2 separate regions of the Homo sapiens genome follow, and region 2 is linked to region 1. Evidence: fine-mapped expression QTL. Tissue or cell type: anterior cingulate cortex. Region 1 holds a variant in brackets; the other region holds the start of a gene. All regions are shown on one strand. Distances are from middle to middle.

Region 1 (8,103 bases):
AGGGTGGAGGCTGCGATAGGAGAGAAGTCAGGCTGGTTCATCTGAAGGCCTCCCTTCCGGGGCAGCAGTTCACCAAACAGACACAAATGGCTCCCCAGCTTCCCACAGGGAAGGCAGGTAGGCACCTGGCATGTGCGGGGACGAGGCAATGACACCTCTCAGGGTTTCCGAGTGTTGGCAGAAGTGACCCGGATGTTTGGTATGCAGAGCTGGCCCCTGGGGAGAAGCCAAGTCACTTCCTGAGGTTTTGGGGAGACAAGGTGTTGACACCCAGGCCCAACCCTGGGGGCACAAGAATCAAAGACACAGAGATCCATGGAGGTGGCCCTGGGGGTCCAGTACAATGGGATGGTGGAGAGGGGCCCCAGAACTCCTGCAGCCTCAAGGGGAGGGGCAGGTGGGTGACCTGGTTTAAGACCAGGCCTGAAGGAAGGGTGGGGGGGCCGTGTTTGCTAATCCTGGAACCTTGGGAAAACCACCGACAAACGCAAATCTGAGAAGCTGTGAGCAATGGGTGACTCGTCGACAGAACCGCATGGGTGAGGGACTGCATTTATGTCTCAAGCTGTGTAAATGGTCATCCCAGCAACAGGTCAGAACTCACCCCATTCCAGTCATGCCCCACAGTCTCCCCGAATTCTCCTGCACCTGGGCTCAGACCTGCAAGAGGCTAAGCCAGGCCTAAAGGGATGAAGGCCACCGTCCAGTGTTTGAGCCGCACCAGGGCAGCACGCAGTACCCAAGGCTGCCCCAGACGTGAGTGGGCTCCGCTGTCAGAGCCCCCAACAAATGACATGGCGCAGGAAGGGAGGGTGGGAGGCAGGGAGCAGCTTCGACAGGACCCCCCAAGGCAGCAGAGCTTCCGGCAGTGGAGCTCAGAGTTGAGACCGCCCAGCCCCTGGCTCCCCGGGGCCCAGTGTGGTGAGTTGGGATGAGGTGTTGCCCTTCCTGCGTTCCGGGCTCCCATGTGGCCTGTTCAGAAACCCTGGTGAAAAGAGCGGCCCTCGGTGGGGGCCCTGGCTGTGGGCGAGTGCTCCTCTGGAAGGAGACTCCGACACACTGCACATTGTGACAGAGGTGGCTGTAACCAAGGCGACCCCAGAACAACAGGCTGCAGATGCGGCTCAGTGTCTCTCCTACACAATAGCTGACCTGTGCTCTGCACACCCCGGCGTATTCAAAGCGATGAGCCCTCAGCCGCGGGTTAAAGTACTGGTGTCTTCTGTTCTTTACAGTCTCAGTGTGCCACATTGAGGTGTCACGCGCCACACTCCATGGCATCCACGCTACAGATGCCAAAGGCCACGGGAAAGCGAGTTCGCCATTCTGCTGAGGTGGGCAGGCTACTATTCCCCGGGACGTGGCTGACACCCCTCACCTGCCCCGATGTGCAGCTGAAGAGACCCCTCGTCCGGCCTTGGCCTCAGGGGAGGGACGATGTCCAGCAAGCTTCTGTCTGACCCTGTGTCTGCCACATCAACTGGAGCAGAGACAACTGGATACAGAAAATCCCATTCACCAAGGTGGGTGCCCTCAGGAGGAAGGGCCTGCGCACGCTGCAACGTTGGGGATGCATTCTGAGATCTAGCTGCATTCTCGGAGATAGAGCCACTGCCCCAACAATTTCAGCGGCACAGTCTGGAAGGGCTCCCCACAGATTCTTAATTTACCCTCTGCAGCTGACAAAACACAATCCCCACCCTCCACCAGAGGGGTCCACAACCTAACCCCAGAGCCTGGGAATGTCACCTACGACGGGTCCACAACCTAACCCCAGAGCCTGGGAATGTCACCTACGACGGGTCCACAACCTAACCCCAGAGCCTGGGAATGTCACCATACGACGGGTCCACAACCTAACCCCAGAGCCTGGGAATGTCACCGTATGAAGGGTCCACAACCTAACCCCAGAGCCTGGGAATGTCACCTACGACGGGTCCACAACCTAACCCCAGAGCCTGGAAATGTCACCATAAGAGGGGTCCACATCCTAACCCCAGAGCCTGGGAATGTTACCATAAGAGGGGTCCACAACCTAACCCCAGAGCCTGGGAATGTCACTGAACGAGGGGTCCACAACCTAACCCCAGAGCCTGGGAATGTCACCGAACGAGGGGTCCACAACCTAATCCCAGAGCCTGGGAATGTCACCGAACGAGGGGTCCGCAACCTAATCCCAGAGCCTGGGAATGTCACCGTTAAGAGGGGTCCACAACCTAACCCCAGAGCCTGGGAATGTCACCGAACAAGGGGTCCACAACCTAACCCCAGAGCCTGGGAATGTCACCGAACGAGGGGTCCACAACCTAATCCCAGAGCCTGGGAATGTCACCATACGAGGGGTCCATAACCTAACCCCAGAGCCTGGGAATGTCACCTACGACGGGTCCACAACCTAACCCCAGAGCCTGGGAATGTCACCACATGAGGGGTCCACAACCTAACCCCAGAGCCTGGGAATGTCACCGAACGAGGGGTCCACAACCTAATCCCAGAGCCTGGGAATGTCACCGTACGAGAGTCCCACAACCTAACCCCAGAGCCTGGGAATGTCACTTTACATGGCAAAAGGGACCTTTCTGATGTGGGTAAATTAAACGTCTGGAGGTGGGAGGTGATCCTGGATTAGCCACATGTATCCAGTGTGATCCCAAGGATCTTGACAGAGGGAGGCAGGAGCAGAGGAGGGGGAGGCACAGAGGCTGGGGTCAGGGGAACGGATTCGCACTGCAGGTTCAAGTGTTCATCCGCACTGACTATAATAGTCAATATAAAAATAAGCCTGGTAGATTACAGCAGCAGGCAATGAGTTAACGTTGGAACTACATCGAGAGCTCTCAGAAGTCACTAACAAAACAAACACTCCACTGGAGAAATCAGGAAAGAAGGTGGTTACAACATAAAGAAAAATGCAGATGGCCAGTTCACTTAGGAAGCCTCACCAATAACCAAAGCTACGCAGCTATGAATGACAACCAGGTGTGACTTCCTGTGCATCAGAGTCTGCAATGGC[G/A]TGGGAGAGGCGGCACTGCCGAGCCCCACCCATGGCTGGATAAATGGTTACGACCTTTCTGAAGGGCAGTTTCACGACGCGCATCAAATTTTTAAATGCGTCTCACCAAAAATAGCCGAGGCCGCCTGGAATAACAAGCTGGAGGGTTTACACGAGCCGGTCTCAGGCCTTGGCATAGGACGTGGCAGTTGCAATCGTACCGGCATGCAAATGGGATGACGGACAGAGCAGAGTCCAGAAACAGCCACGTCGCCCCTCCCGTGACTGACGGCAAAGGCGGCACCACAGCACTAGGGGAGAGGTTGGTCTTCCCACACGTGGAGCTGGGTAAATTACATATCCGTCTGGGGACAGTGGTCAGTCTCAACCCCTACTGCACTGCAGACACAGAAACAAGCAGAGAAGGACCACAGGCCCAAACACGAAAGTGAAAACAACAAATGTTCCAGGTAACACAGGAAACTACTTTCATGGCCTCGGGTTAGGCAGGATTCCTCCACCAAGACATAAAAGCACTGAATACAGAAGAGCTTGATAAACCGGACTGCACTGACGTTGAAAACTGCTGTCCACCAGCAGACACCATCGAAGTCAAAAGGGAAGACCCCGTGTAAGAGATATTTGCAATACGTATATCAAACAAATGACTCATACTCAAAATACACAAAAACTCCTTAAAAAATCAGTAAGAAAGAAAAGCAAACAGCACAACAGAAAAATGAGCAGAAGTCTTGAGTAGATTTTTTTAAAAGGATATTGATATCCAATAAACATAAAAAGGTCACCAACATCATTCAAGAAAAGCAAATAAAAAACAGAATGAGACAACATTAGCCACCAGAATGGCGGACCTGGAAAAGACGGGCCACACCCAATGCTGGACACTGGGCTTCTCACGCTCTGCCAAGGGGAGAGTGAACCAGTGCCCGCTCTGGAGAAGGCACCGGGCACCAGCTGTTCATGCTGAACATGCCCCTCGACCCAGCGACGCCATCCTGGGCAGATCCCACAAAGAAGGGCACAGTCAGGTTCACCAGCAGAAACGCGCTCACTAGAACATCCGGCAGCTCTGTTCTGCTGGCGTCTGGAAAAGGCATTCCATGGTGCTGGCCGTGTGCTGCTTCTTGACCTGAGGGGTGATTTCTTGGGTATGTTCGCTTTGTAAAAACTGTCATACCATACACACATATACGTGCTTTTCTGCAGGCATGTTATACTCCAATAACACGTTTGCTTTTAAAACATGGCTGGCAGGGGGATGCAGGGTGATGAGAAGTTTGGTCTGAGTAACCCTGAACCCCTAGCTCTAATTTGTTTCTCTGTGACTCTACAATTCTACCTGCTCCCCTCAGTAAATAAACACAGATCTGGATTAAACATCCAAAATAAATTTTAAAATGAGAAAAAAATGTGTAGACATTTAACAGAGCAATTCTACCTCTGAGAATTCATCCTACAGAGATAACCCAGCAAGAACACAGAAGATTCATTACAGCATTGTGAGAATGCAAACCCGAAGCCAGACGCACACCAGCAGGATGACAAACGTAGACTATTAAGCAGCCGTGAGAATGATGATACAGTCTGAGCTACTGGCACGGAAATATAGACATGGTAAATTTAAAAACTGAAGCTGCGAAACGGCACGGATAGCAGAACCCCATTTATATAAAATTGTGTGCACACACACACACACCTAGAGAAGCCCCGAAAGAAGTCACCACAATGTTGACACTGGTCATCTCTGAGGGATGGGATTTCAAACGATGTTTGGCTATGTGTGTGTGCATGTGTGTGCGTGTGTGTGTGTTATTTAAACAGCCTGCAGAGTAGGAATATCCTGGATCTACAGTGCACCAAGGAATGACCATGGGAAGAAAATGAACCTTGCTTCATTCACAATCAACCGTTTTTCCCTCATTCACAGCAAATCCTAGAGAAATAACAGCTGTGTGCCACAATCCCTACGAGAAAGTACCTGCCTCCAAGAGAAGCCACCCGCCTGCTTTCATCTCCCTCAAATATGGTTCTGAATCTGAGAAGCACAGGAAAGTGACTGTGTGTAATAGTCCGCAACTGGAAACAGCCAAATTATGGTTACAAGGACGAGTCAGCGGTGGCCTATTCATATAATGGAATATGGAATAGTGACGAGTAGCATCCAGCCGTGAACACTGCAATATCCCCTGGGAGACTCTCACCTGGGAGTCTCCCGGGTATATTGGCGATGCCTAGAGACGTATCTAGTTGTCAAACCTGGGGAGGGGCTGCTGGCATCAAGTGGGTAGAGGCCAGGGATGCTGCTCCACACCCTCCCTGCAATGCCCAGGCCAGCCCCACAGCCACAGTGCCCCAACACCAATGCATCTCAACACAGCAGAACCAGTTCCCTTGGAAGATTAAGCCCCAGAAACACAAGCCAACTTCAAAAGGCCAAAGTCTGGATTCCACTCTATGCCTGGGAACCTCCTCTGTTCCGGGGTGACATGGACGCTGGAGCTCCACACGGTCAGAAAGCGCTCCGGAGCTCGGCTCCACGCGGTCAGGAAGTGCTCTGGAGCTCACTCCCTTCCAATGCCCTGAGAGATCGGACAGACGATTGCTGACGTCAGTGGCAAAGGGCTGACGTCAGTGGCAAAGGACTCCCGCCCCCCCGCAGACATTAAAATGAGCCCTTTGGGAGAATAAGGGATTCCATCCAGCTCAGAAGGGCAGGAGTAATGAGGCCACCCAGCCCTCTGGAGGGCACCGGGAAAGGCTGGAAGCAGGGTCTGTGCCCTGAGACACAGTCCACTGAGACACAGTCCATGGCCCAGCCACACCCGCGGCTGCCCCGTTTGTCTGTAGAGTGCAGGCTCCCCAGCAGGGGAGAAGCACAGATGACACCTCACTGACCATTCCCACTTGCCCTCTGCAGCCTGAGGGCCCAGACACACTGATGGCACTGGCGCAATTGACATGAACCGGGCACAGTGACACAGTCACGTGTCCCAGGACCTCCGTGGGCTTCCGTGGTGCAGCCCTGGGGCATGTGGAGTGCCCAGCCTCACCCCCAGGCTTTACCAGGTGCCCCCTCAGAGCCTCCAGGATGGGCCTGCAACTCTGTCCCTCACACCCTGGGGAGCTTGCACCCCATTCTGTGCCAGCAAAAGAAGGTATCTCAGGCCAGGCACAGTGGCCCACGCCTGTAATCCCAGCACTTTGGGAGACGGAGGTGGATGGATCACTTGAGGCCAGGAGTTCGAGACCAGCCTGAACAACACGGTGAAACCCTGTCACTACTAAAATTACAAAAATTAGCAGGGAGCATGCCCGTAATCCCAGCTACTCAGGAGGCTGAGGCAGGAGAATTGCTTGAACCCAGGAGGTAGAAGTTGCAGTGAGCCGAGATCGTGCCATTGCACTCCAGCCCGGATGACAGAGCAAGACTCTGTATCAAAAAAAAAAAAAAAGAAAAGAAGGCATCTCAGCCTCGGGCCTCAAGACCTCAGCCCATGTTGGGAGAAAATTCCTGCAGCCTCCATGTCACGGTTCCCTGACAACGATGTGGGGGACAAATGTGTGACTCTCTTCTGAGTTCACCTCCTCCTCACGGCCCGTGACAGAGTGCCGCCAGGGGAAATCTTCCCATCAGACAAATCACTTTAACTTAGAAGAGCAGGCCCCCGCAACATCCTCAGAAATATAAAAGCAACCTTCAAAAGAAAAACCCCAAAACCCTAGAGAACGCTTGGCTAAGACAAGCCTTAATTACCATCCTCTTTCGGTATGATAAAAATTCCTCTCCACCTCTCTTCAAGACAGGATTCCTTATTCAAACACTTTCTTTTTTTAAAAATAACTGCAGTAACCAACCATTAAAACGGGGACTGCATTTTAATCCACGCTTTCTTTTTCTCTGGTTTTCAAACTGGCACCTTTCATACTTCACAGAAGACACAAACATGGCCTTCTACAAAACTTCCATCCACGGCATCAAGCCCCACAGGGCCTGTAATTCACTGGAGCCGGGAGGTGAGAAGTGCCTGCAGAGACGGTTCCCCCAGGCCACCATGCCGTCCCTGCCCTCGGGCCACAGCCAGCAGGCCTCAGGACCAGTGAGAAAATGGCCCGGAGAGCCCTGCCCGAGCTTCTCACACAGACACGCCTGCTGCATTGCTCCCTTCCCATTGCTCCCTTCTCGTGTCTGGGAGGCCTGAATGGTGCCTCAAGGAAAAGGAGTACAGTCTTGCATCACTTAATGACAAGGACACATTGTGAAAATGCATCATTAGGCGATTTCATCGTGCTGTGAACATCACAGAGGGGACTTACACAAAGCTAGACGACGCAGTCCACCACACACCTGGCTGTATGGAGTAGCCTATTGCTCCTAGGCTACAAACTGTGCCCACTACTGTACTGAATGCTGCCAGCGGCTGTAACACAATGGGAAGGATCTGTGCATTGAAATACATCAAAACATAGATGAGGTACAGGGAAAATCTGGTCTTACAGTCTGATGGGACCACTGTGGTATACGCAATCTATCACTGACCGGAACATGACTGAAATGTTTCCAAAACACACAGGATGCTCGGTTGGGTCTGCTGCAGCACCAGCCACACTGGAAACCCTGGTGGCTTTAGGGACCACTAGAAGCCACGCTCGACCTCCCCTCTGCCAGGAAAGCCAGCACACTGAGGAGCTAGCCATCAGGCACCAGCACCAGGCTCCAGCCCTCCATGTGGGCCTCTCTGACCCTGACGTCACAGAGAACCCCAGTGACCCGGCCAGCGGGGCTGCCTGCACCTGCTTCCTGCACAACTCCCCCCAGGCCGCTCTGCCGGGGGCAGGAAAGCACTGTCCCTCAGGGGTGGCTAATTCTAGGCTTTGCCTCTCCCAAAACCATTACTCGGATCATCCAGATGCTAACCCCAGATACATCATTCATCTCTCAGATCCGTTCTGTCTTCATCTGTGGTCGACAGCTCATCAGGTTGAATCTTCAGAAATGACTTAAATCCACACACCAGGGTCAGGAGCAGAAGGCGGCTAGCTGGGGACCATTCTGAGTTGTCTATTTGCAGAGACTGGTCATTTTCTCCCTG
Region 2 (8,103 bases), 74 kb after region 1:
TGTGCTTTTCCACACAGACTAGGGGTCACCACACCCTTCCGTCCCTTTCTACTGTCATCAGCATGGCCGTCGTTTCTCTAAGACAGTGCCTTGATCAGGAAATGTTGATTTCTACCCTAAATCCAGACTTGGAAGAACAAAGCTTCTATATGGAACAAAGACTGAGTTCAAACTGCTCCTTCAAGTTTAGATACAAAAATGCAAGTGCACATGTGCATGTGTGTGTACATATGTGTACGTGTGTGGATATGTGAGCTGTGTAAATAGGTGTACATGTGTGTGGATGTGGGATGTGTGTGAATGTGTGAGGGTGTGTGTGCATGTGTGTGCACACATGTGAGTATGTGAAGATGTGTGTGGACACGTGCATGCATATGAGTGTGTGTGGACGTGTGTGGGGTGTACGTGTGTGAGCATGTGTGTATGTATGTGCATGTGTGTAGAGATGTGCGAGCATGTGCAGATGTGTGTAGACACGTGGACTTTTGTGAATGTGTGTACGTGTATGCATGTGTGTAGAAATGTATGGATGTGTGTGGATGCATGTGGATGTGTGTAGTCTGTGACTGTGTGGTCATGTGTGTAGACACGTGGATATGTGTGGACATGTGTGAACATGTGTAAATACATGTATGTTGATGCACGTAGACATGTGTTGGCACATGTGGGTGTGGGTGTGTGCATGGATGTGTATATATGTGCATGTGTGTCTACACATGTGAATTGTGTGGACACATGTGTGGATGCATGTGGACACATGTTGATGCATGCAGGTGTGTGCATATGTGTGGATGCTTTTGCATGTGTATGCATGTGTGTCAACATGTCTGATGTGTATGGATGTGAGTGGTGTGTGGACATGTGATGTGTGTTGGCACATGTGGCCATATGTTGACACATGTAGACATCTGGTGTGTGTGTGTATGCATATGTGTCACCATGTGTGGATGTGTGTGATTTGTGTTGGTGCATGTGGGCATATGTTGACACATGTAGACATGTAGCATGGGGGGGCATGTGGACACATGTGCATGTGTGAGAATGCGTGTGGGCTCTGTATCATAAGCAGAAGTCCGGGGAGAACCCGCACAGCTTTTCTCCAACACTGAGCAGCAGTGAGGGCCATGCTGGGGCCTCGGGGGCCACCTGCCTGCTGCAGGAGCCGGGTGCACAGCTCTGCCTGACCGCCCTGCAGTTCGAGGGGCTACCCCTCTCCTCCTCTCAGTCCTCTCCCCTACTGGAGCCCAGCCCAAGCCATGAGGCCTGCATTCACGAGAAGCAAGGTGTCCAAGGTGGACACGTCCTCTCTTTAACGCAGCGCTGGGCATGTTTATTCGTTCCCAAGCCACAGGAGCCCTTGTTTCATTCAGCGATTTGGCTGAGGAGAGGGGAATGTGTGGAAACTCACAGCTTCCACACCTTTTTAAAAGGAGCTCCCTATGCATGTGGACGAAACAGAAGTGGCAGCGTCCCCACCCCCGAGTTGGTGAATGGAGGTGGTGGCGAGGCGACGATGCCTGGAACATCCTGGCATGGGGCTGCCGGGCAGCCGGAAAGGAGACAGAGGCTGAGGGCACAGCCCCTGGCCCTAGACCCCAGCAGGCTCCTGGTGCTCCATCCAGGAAAGGGGCTCTCCCTGGAGGCCTGGGTATCGCCCTGGGATCTGCCCACAGTGCTGGCCTGAGTCCATTTGTGGTTGATCATTAAAGGCTGGTTCCCAGCCAGGCCCAGTGGCTCACATCTGTAATCCCAACACTTTGGGAGGCCGAGGTGGTTGGATCACCCGAGGTCAGGAGATCGAGACCAGCCTGGCCAACATGGCAAAACCTTGTGTCTACTAAAAATACAAAAATTAGCCAGGCGTGGTGGCATGGGCCTGTAATCCCAGCTGCTTGGAAGGCTGAGGCACAAGAATCGCTTGAACCCGGGAGGCAGAGGTAGCAGAGAGCCGAGACTGAGATCTCACCACTCAACTCCAGCCTGGGTGACAGAGTGAGACTTTGTCTCAAAAAATAAAAACAAAAATAATTTTTTTAAAAAGGCTGATTTCCCATCAGAGACAGGCAGGGCCATACAATAGCGCTCGGGGGGGTGCCCAGCCAAGCTCTGGTGGGGCGGGGGCAGAGGCTGTGCTCACAACAGGCTTCCCAGCAGGGGTTCAGGCACTAGCAGGGTCTCCTCCCCACCTCCTGCAACTTCCAGCAGGGAGCAACAGCCCAGTGACTGCCTGCTGCTCCCAGAAAGCCTCGTCTTCCCATCCCTGCCCCTGGCTGACCAGAACGTGTGCCCACACTCTTAACAGCGAAGGGTGTGTGCCTCCCTGTCTTCCCGAGAGAAGCCCCGTCCTGATGCTTCCTGGTTGGGTGTCACAATGGCCAATGGAATGTGGCTCTGGGGCTGGAGCAAGGGTGGCCCTCTATCCCGAGTCCCACTCATCGGCTGCTCCAGGCTAAGCTGGTCAGCACTCTGAGGCTGGAGGTCCCGAGACCCTGCTATGGGCCAGAGCTCCAACTCCCCACCAGTGAATCTGCCCTGAAGACATGAGATGGGTGTGGTGGCTCACATCTGTAATCCCAGCACTCTGGGAGGCCAAGGCGGGCGGATCACCTGAAATCAGGAGTTCGAGACCAGCCTGGCCAACATAGTGAAACCCTGTCTCTACTAAAAATACAAAAAAAAAAAAAGCTGGGTGTAGTGGTGCACACCTGTGATCCCAGCTACTCAGGTGGCTGAGGCAGGAGAATTGCTTGAACCCGGGAGGCAGAGGTTGCGGCCACTGCACTCCAGCCTGGGCAACAGAGCAAGACTCCATCTCAAAAAGAAAAAAAGGAAGAAAGGAAGAAAGAGAGAAAGAGAGAAAGAAAGAGGCAGAAGGCATTCAAATGAAGATCATATTTCCTTAATCACAATGTTTCATATGACCCAGCTCAAGGGGCCCAGAACCACTTCTCCATCCACCGCTCAGCCGGTGAGGGGTAGCAGAGCTGCCCAGGGTCACAGTGTGTGGTGAGGCAGTGAGGTCGGGGACCAGGAGCCCAACAAGGGCCATTCGCTGATGCCTCAGAGATGAACAAGTGGGCTGTTCCTGAGATACCTGCACTAGGCAGGGGGAGAGCGGTGCTCAGAGTGAGAAGGAAACACTCTTACCTGGATGGTCCTGCGATCTGGAGTAGACGCCACGCACCTGCGCACAAAAGACCACAGTGTGAGACACACTCAGGGAAAGCCTCCGGAGAAACCAAGCCTGTCGCCATCCTGGCCACTTGGGGACATTACCTGAAAGTTGTAATAAAATAGCAGCAGCCAGGAGTACCAGCAGCACAGCCGCAGCAGCTTTTCCATGGCTCTCTCGGAGGTCAAAGCTCGGAGCCAAGTGAAATTCCTGAGGGTCTGTGAGAACGGGACCTCTTAACCTTCACTTCCTTGGAAAAGGGACATTTTCACAGGTTCCAGGGGAGAAAATTTCTGTCTCCTTAAAGTTTGTGAAACACAGCTGTCTTGGAGACCTAATGGGTGTTTCTTCCTCGTCTCAAAACTTGAGATTCTTCAGTGATCAATAAACACGTTGCGATGACCAGAGCAGCTGTGGAATGCAGGGAGGAGAAACCCAAACCCGACTCGCAGTCCTGGGAAAGCAATCCCAGGTCACCACTGTGACCGCGACCTGCGCCCGGGGACGGGAGGCTGTTTGTCCTGCGGTATTTTCTTTTTATTTCAAGAGCCTCCGTTTGTCTCAGTCAGGTTTGGAGCTTCCCTTTTCTCTGAAGAAGGTTTTGTGCGTGGTTTTCCCCTGGAGCGCCCGCCTGCTCCTCGGGCTTGTCCTGCGGCCGCTCTCGAGCTCCTTCTGGTCTGGCTCAAGTTCACACCTCCGTCCTGCTCTCTGGGTGGAGGGGGAGTGAGTGATGTAAGTCTCTCTCCTCAAACTTTGTTCTGTTCTCCTTTTCTATTTATATCCCCACTGCTGTGTCCTTCCTGGGTCCTAACTCCAGCCTCTTAACAACAGCTGAAATATTTCCAGGATCTCAGGCTCAGAATCAAACCAAACAGACATGGTGTGTGGTGTGTGTGCGTGTGCGTGTGTGTGTTACTGATGCCTTCTGGTCAGCACCTTCAAAGTCGGCATAAATATTAATAAATACAAAATGCAAAACAAACCATAAACTCTGTTTAGATCTGAGTCTTGTTTGCCCCCAAAAGAGAATGAAGTTGACAGAGGGATGGAAAAGAGAAAGCAGCACACCCACTGTGCCCTCCATATTAAGCGCTGACCACATTTTTCTCTCTAATCCTTTCGGACGTCAGTGAAAGCTACGGAATTAATTACAAGGTACGCTGCGCAATTACACCATCCCACATATACCCCCACCCCAGCACCAGGAGGATGTTCTCAATGGGATAGAAAAGAGTCAGCCCCTTCGCCAGACATGCCTCAGTTTACCCAAGACCAAAGTTTATCCGATCTACTCCAAATACACGTGGACACACAGAGACACACACCCTAGAATTGCAGTCACAGCTATATTTGCTATGTGATTTAAGTAATATTTACCGCTTCATACTTTCTCCAACATTCACCAGCTGTGCTCCTAGGCAAATTACTTGATCTCTCTTAGTTTTCGAATTCCTCATCCACAAAATGGGGGTTAATAGTTCCTCCTCCTCAGGGCTGTAACAATAAATTAGAGGACAGATCCAAGGCTCTTCAGGCAGTACTTGGAAAATATGTGGCACTCAGTAAATGCTGCTATTTTCTATTAAGAAAAATTATCACTCAGTAAATGTTAGCTATGATTATTATTAGCAAGTATAACATAACACCCAGTAAATGTTAGCTGATACAGTTATCTCAATTGTCCTGACTTTAAATGGGAATTAAGAATCCTGAATCCAACATACTTCCTAAAGAGGATAAGAAAATGACTTCCAATCTCTGTGGGACAGAAAAAAAGAAAGTGCTGTCAAAACGTTAGGTGATTATTTTTAACTTGTGCCTGCAGCCTACAACCGCTCAGATCCTCTGATAGCCTGAGCCTCTCTGTGGAGCTGGAGAAGGGTTCCAGAGAGTTCCATCTCCTAGCAATGGAGAAACTGTGAACTCCAAAGGCCGGGGGCTGTCTGTAATAACGACCTTTATCCTGTTGCTCAGGCTGGTCGGCTTCAGGGAAAACTAATTTACAACCTTTATCTCTGCCATTTCATCAGCTCTCCAGTCCCCCACTGCCTCTCGCTGGAAGAGGTGAAGGGAGGGACAGGCAGCTGCAGGTTTTTCTCAGCTCCAGTTTTAACCTGGAAGAATTCAACAGATTGCTGAATATGCGGACCTTTCCCATCTCCATGACCGAACAAAGCCAGCATGGTTTCTTTTCATCATAAAATTGTCATCAGATAATGGGAGACACCCCGATTCAATGACTGTAATAAAAACTAGATAGCAAAGCAATTCAGCAGAGCTTGCCCTGCAGGCATCTGCACTCATCCTCAGACTCACTCTGACTCTCCATCCCGGACTACAGTCTCGTGCCTCATGCTATTTGCCTGCGTCCTGTCTCAGGCCTTGTTCAGAGGCCCAGATGAAGAGCCCGCCTCCATGTAAAGCAGCGTGTCCTGAAGCCTGGAGATTTGAGACAGGGCCTTGAGTGGTCCATGGGCCTGGAACCAAGCAACTCTGATGTCTCTGAGCATCTCATTCCATCACCCAAACGTCGGGGTGTTCGGCACCCAAACATCACCTTGACAGCAGGTCTCCCTCCCCCTAAAGCCCTCCCCTGCTGTATTTTCTCGATCCCACTAACCACGATCCAATGTACTTCATATCTTAGACGTTTATTTCATTTATTGTCAGTCTCTCCCCACCGAGGCGTAGGCCCCATGAGAGCAGAGACCTTCTTTCTGCCTGTTCGCTCTGCACCCCAGCCCCGAGAACAGGGCTTGGTACTTGGTGAGCACTCAGCGTTTGTCACCAAACCCAGCCTGGCTCTGCCCTCCCGCAGCAAAGCCAAACATGGACGTCGGGATTGCAGTGAGAGGAAGTGAGGCATTTAGAGCAGGGCACCAGGCGAGCAGAACCTGGCAGCTCACACTTCAGACCTGAACTCCCCGATGGCTGATGGGGGAGGGTTTTTCAAGGTGGAGAGGCAGAGGTTACAGGCTAAGTCCCACATGAATAATACCTGGAGGCTGCACATTGGTTTGACCTAAAAAGCTAGGACATCTTGAACTGGGGGCCCACAGGTCATATAGGTAGTAGATTCAGAGGTTTTCTGATTTGTGATTGGTTAAGAAGGCAAGGCTTTGTCAAAAAATTTGAGATCAGCAAAAAAGAATGTTAGCTCTGGCCTGTGGGCATGACCTCCTCCAGGCCCCTCAGGAAGAAATTTAGAACAAAGAACAGTGGTGGGCCCGGAGGGGTGGATCCCAACACTTTGGGAGGCTGAGGCAGGTGGATCACCTGAGGTCAGGGGTTCGAGACCAGCCTGGCCAACATGGCGAAACCCCGTCTCTACTAAAAATACAAAAATTAGCCGGGTGTGGTGGTGCATACCTGTACTCAGGAGGATACTTGGGAGGCTGAGGCAAGAGAATCGCTTGAACCCAGGAGGCGGAGGTTGCAGTGAGCTGAGATTGAGCCACTGCACTCCAGCCTGGGCAACAGAGTGAGACTCTGTCTCAAAAAACAAAGAACAAAGAACGGTGGTGGAGTTCAGCTCTCCGCTCCCCCATATCAGAGGTCTGTAAGTCAACAGATCCATTTGGTGGGGGTCCAGGTTCTGAAAAACAACTCCGGGTCGTTTGTTACGATGTTGTCTTTAGTTTCTACAGGGAAGCAATGAATTCCTGACTCTAACTCTCTTGACTATTGTTTCTCGCCACTATTAACTTCTTGCTTCCCAAGTTGCTCATGTATTTCTCAGGGCTAGCTAGGTGGCTGGAATTCCCCTTCAAGGAACCCAAGATTTTATTGTATTTATTTATTTATTTTGAGATGGAGTCTCATTCTGTTGCCCAGGCTAGAGGGCAGTGGCACGATCTCAGCCCACCACAACCTCACTGAGCTCCCAGGTTCAAGCAATTCTCCTGCCTCAGCCTCCTGAGTAGCCAGGATTACAGGCACCCGCCACCACACCCGGCTAATTTTTTTGTATTTTTAGTAGAGGCGGAGTTTCACCATGTTGGCCAGGCTGGTCTCGAACTCCTGACCTCGTGATCCGCCCACCTCAGCCTCCCAAAGTGCTGGGATTACAGGTGTGAGCCACCGCGCCCGGCCCGATTTTCTTTTTTCTATGCTTGGGTGGGGAGTGCCCGGCAGGCAGCCTCACATTCAACATTCAAGTCATAGTTTTGGGCCACATGCATGTGTACTTTACTTAAAGAATGAAAAACATTGTTACGCTTTGGTAAAATATTTCAGACTTTACTGGGAGGATGCTAATTAAACATTAAAAATGAGACCTTACATTGTGATTAGGCTCCACTCAAAATTTTACAAGGACATAAAGTGTGACGCCAGCTACCAATGGGAACGTAACTGGATTATTTGCAAAGCTGATGCCCTGCGCACAACAGAGCATGTTTCCTGGTGCTGAGCAGCTCAGATGTCCCAGGAGGACAGATCGGGCCTGAACAAAGAATTCTGTGGAGTGGCCCAAATGCTGAGGGAGAGCTGGACAAGCTGTGAGCACAGGAGTTCCTGATGCCTGATTCACACCAATCCAAGGTGCGCCTCCCTCCAGCTCAGACCCTCCCATACGCCGGCATATTTGTGAGAGGCAGCAAGAGTTGTGTGTCCATCACGTTTACTCCTGTGTAGATAAGCAAGGCGGAGCAGCAGTTCGTAAGCAGTGTGCTAGGAGGGGTGTGCAGCACACAACGTACATGGAAATGAACGGTGTTAGAAGCCTGGGGGCGAATTCACTGTGAAAGTCACACGAAGGAGTTCAAGAATTCTTTCTCTGAGTGGTTAAGGGATGGGACATTCTGGAAAGAAGCTATGGAATGGGCTAAAGCTCCGATGCAGCATGCCATGGACCATGGGCGTGTGTTGTTTCTACCAGCCCAGCCTCCCCTCCGGCTCCTGTCGGCTTTCCTTTTGAAGGACGTTTCTTC

Evidence for each region. PIP is the estimated chance that this variant, and not a neighbour inherited with it, causes the effect.
Region 2: it holds the start of ADGRD1, and the variant in region 1 is fine-mapped to the expression of ADGRD1 in anterior cingulate cortex (GTEx, PIP 0.93).

Annotation. Positions count from the first base shown.
Region 1 is chr12:131,023,908-131,032,010 of GRCh38, reverse strand. The region is part of intron 13 of ADGRD1 (adhesion G protein-coupled receptor D1); the gene reads right to left. Among named protein-coding and RNA genes, the nearest start is that of ADGRD1-AS1, 34 kb to the right of the region's middle. RefSeq lists an enhancer at 3,176-3,677. The variant G/A (reference allele first, on the strand shown) is at 3,014.
Region 2 is chr12:130,949,705-130,957,807 of GRCh38, reverse strand. It overlaps ADGRD1 (adhesion G protein-coupled receptor D1), which reads right to left and starts at 3,901. Exons shown (of 25, transcript NM_198827.5): 1 at 3,277-3,901; 2 at 3,148-3,184. The coding sequence starts at 3,342.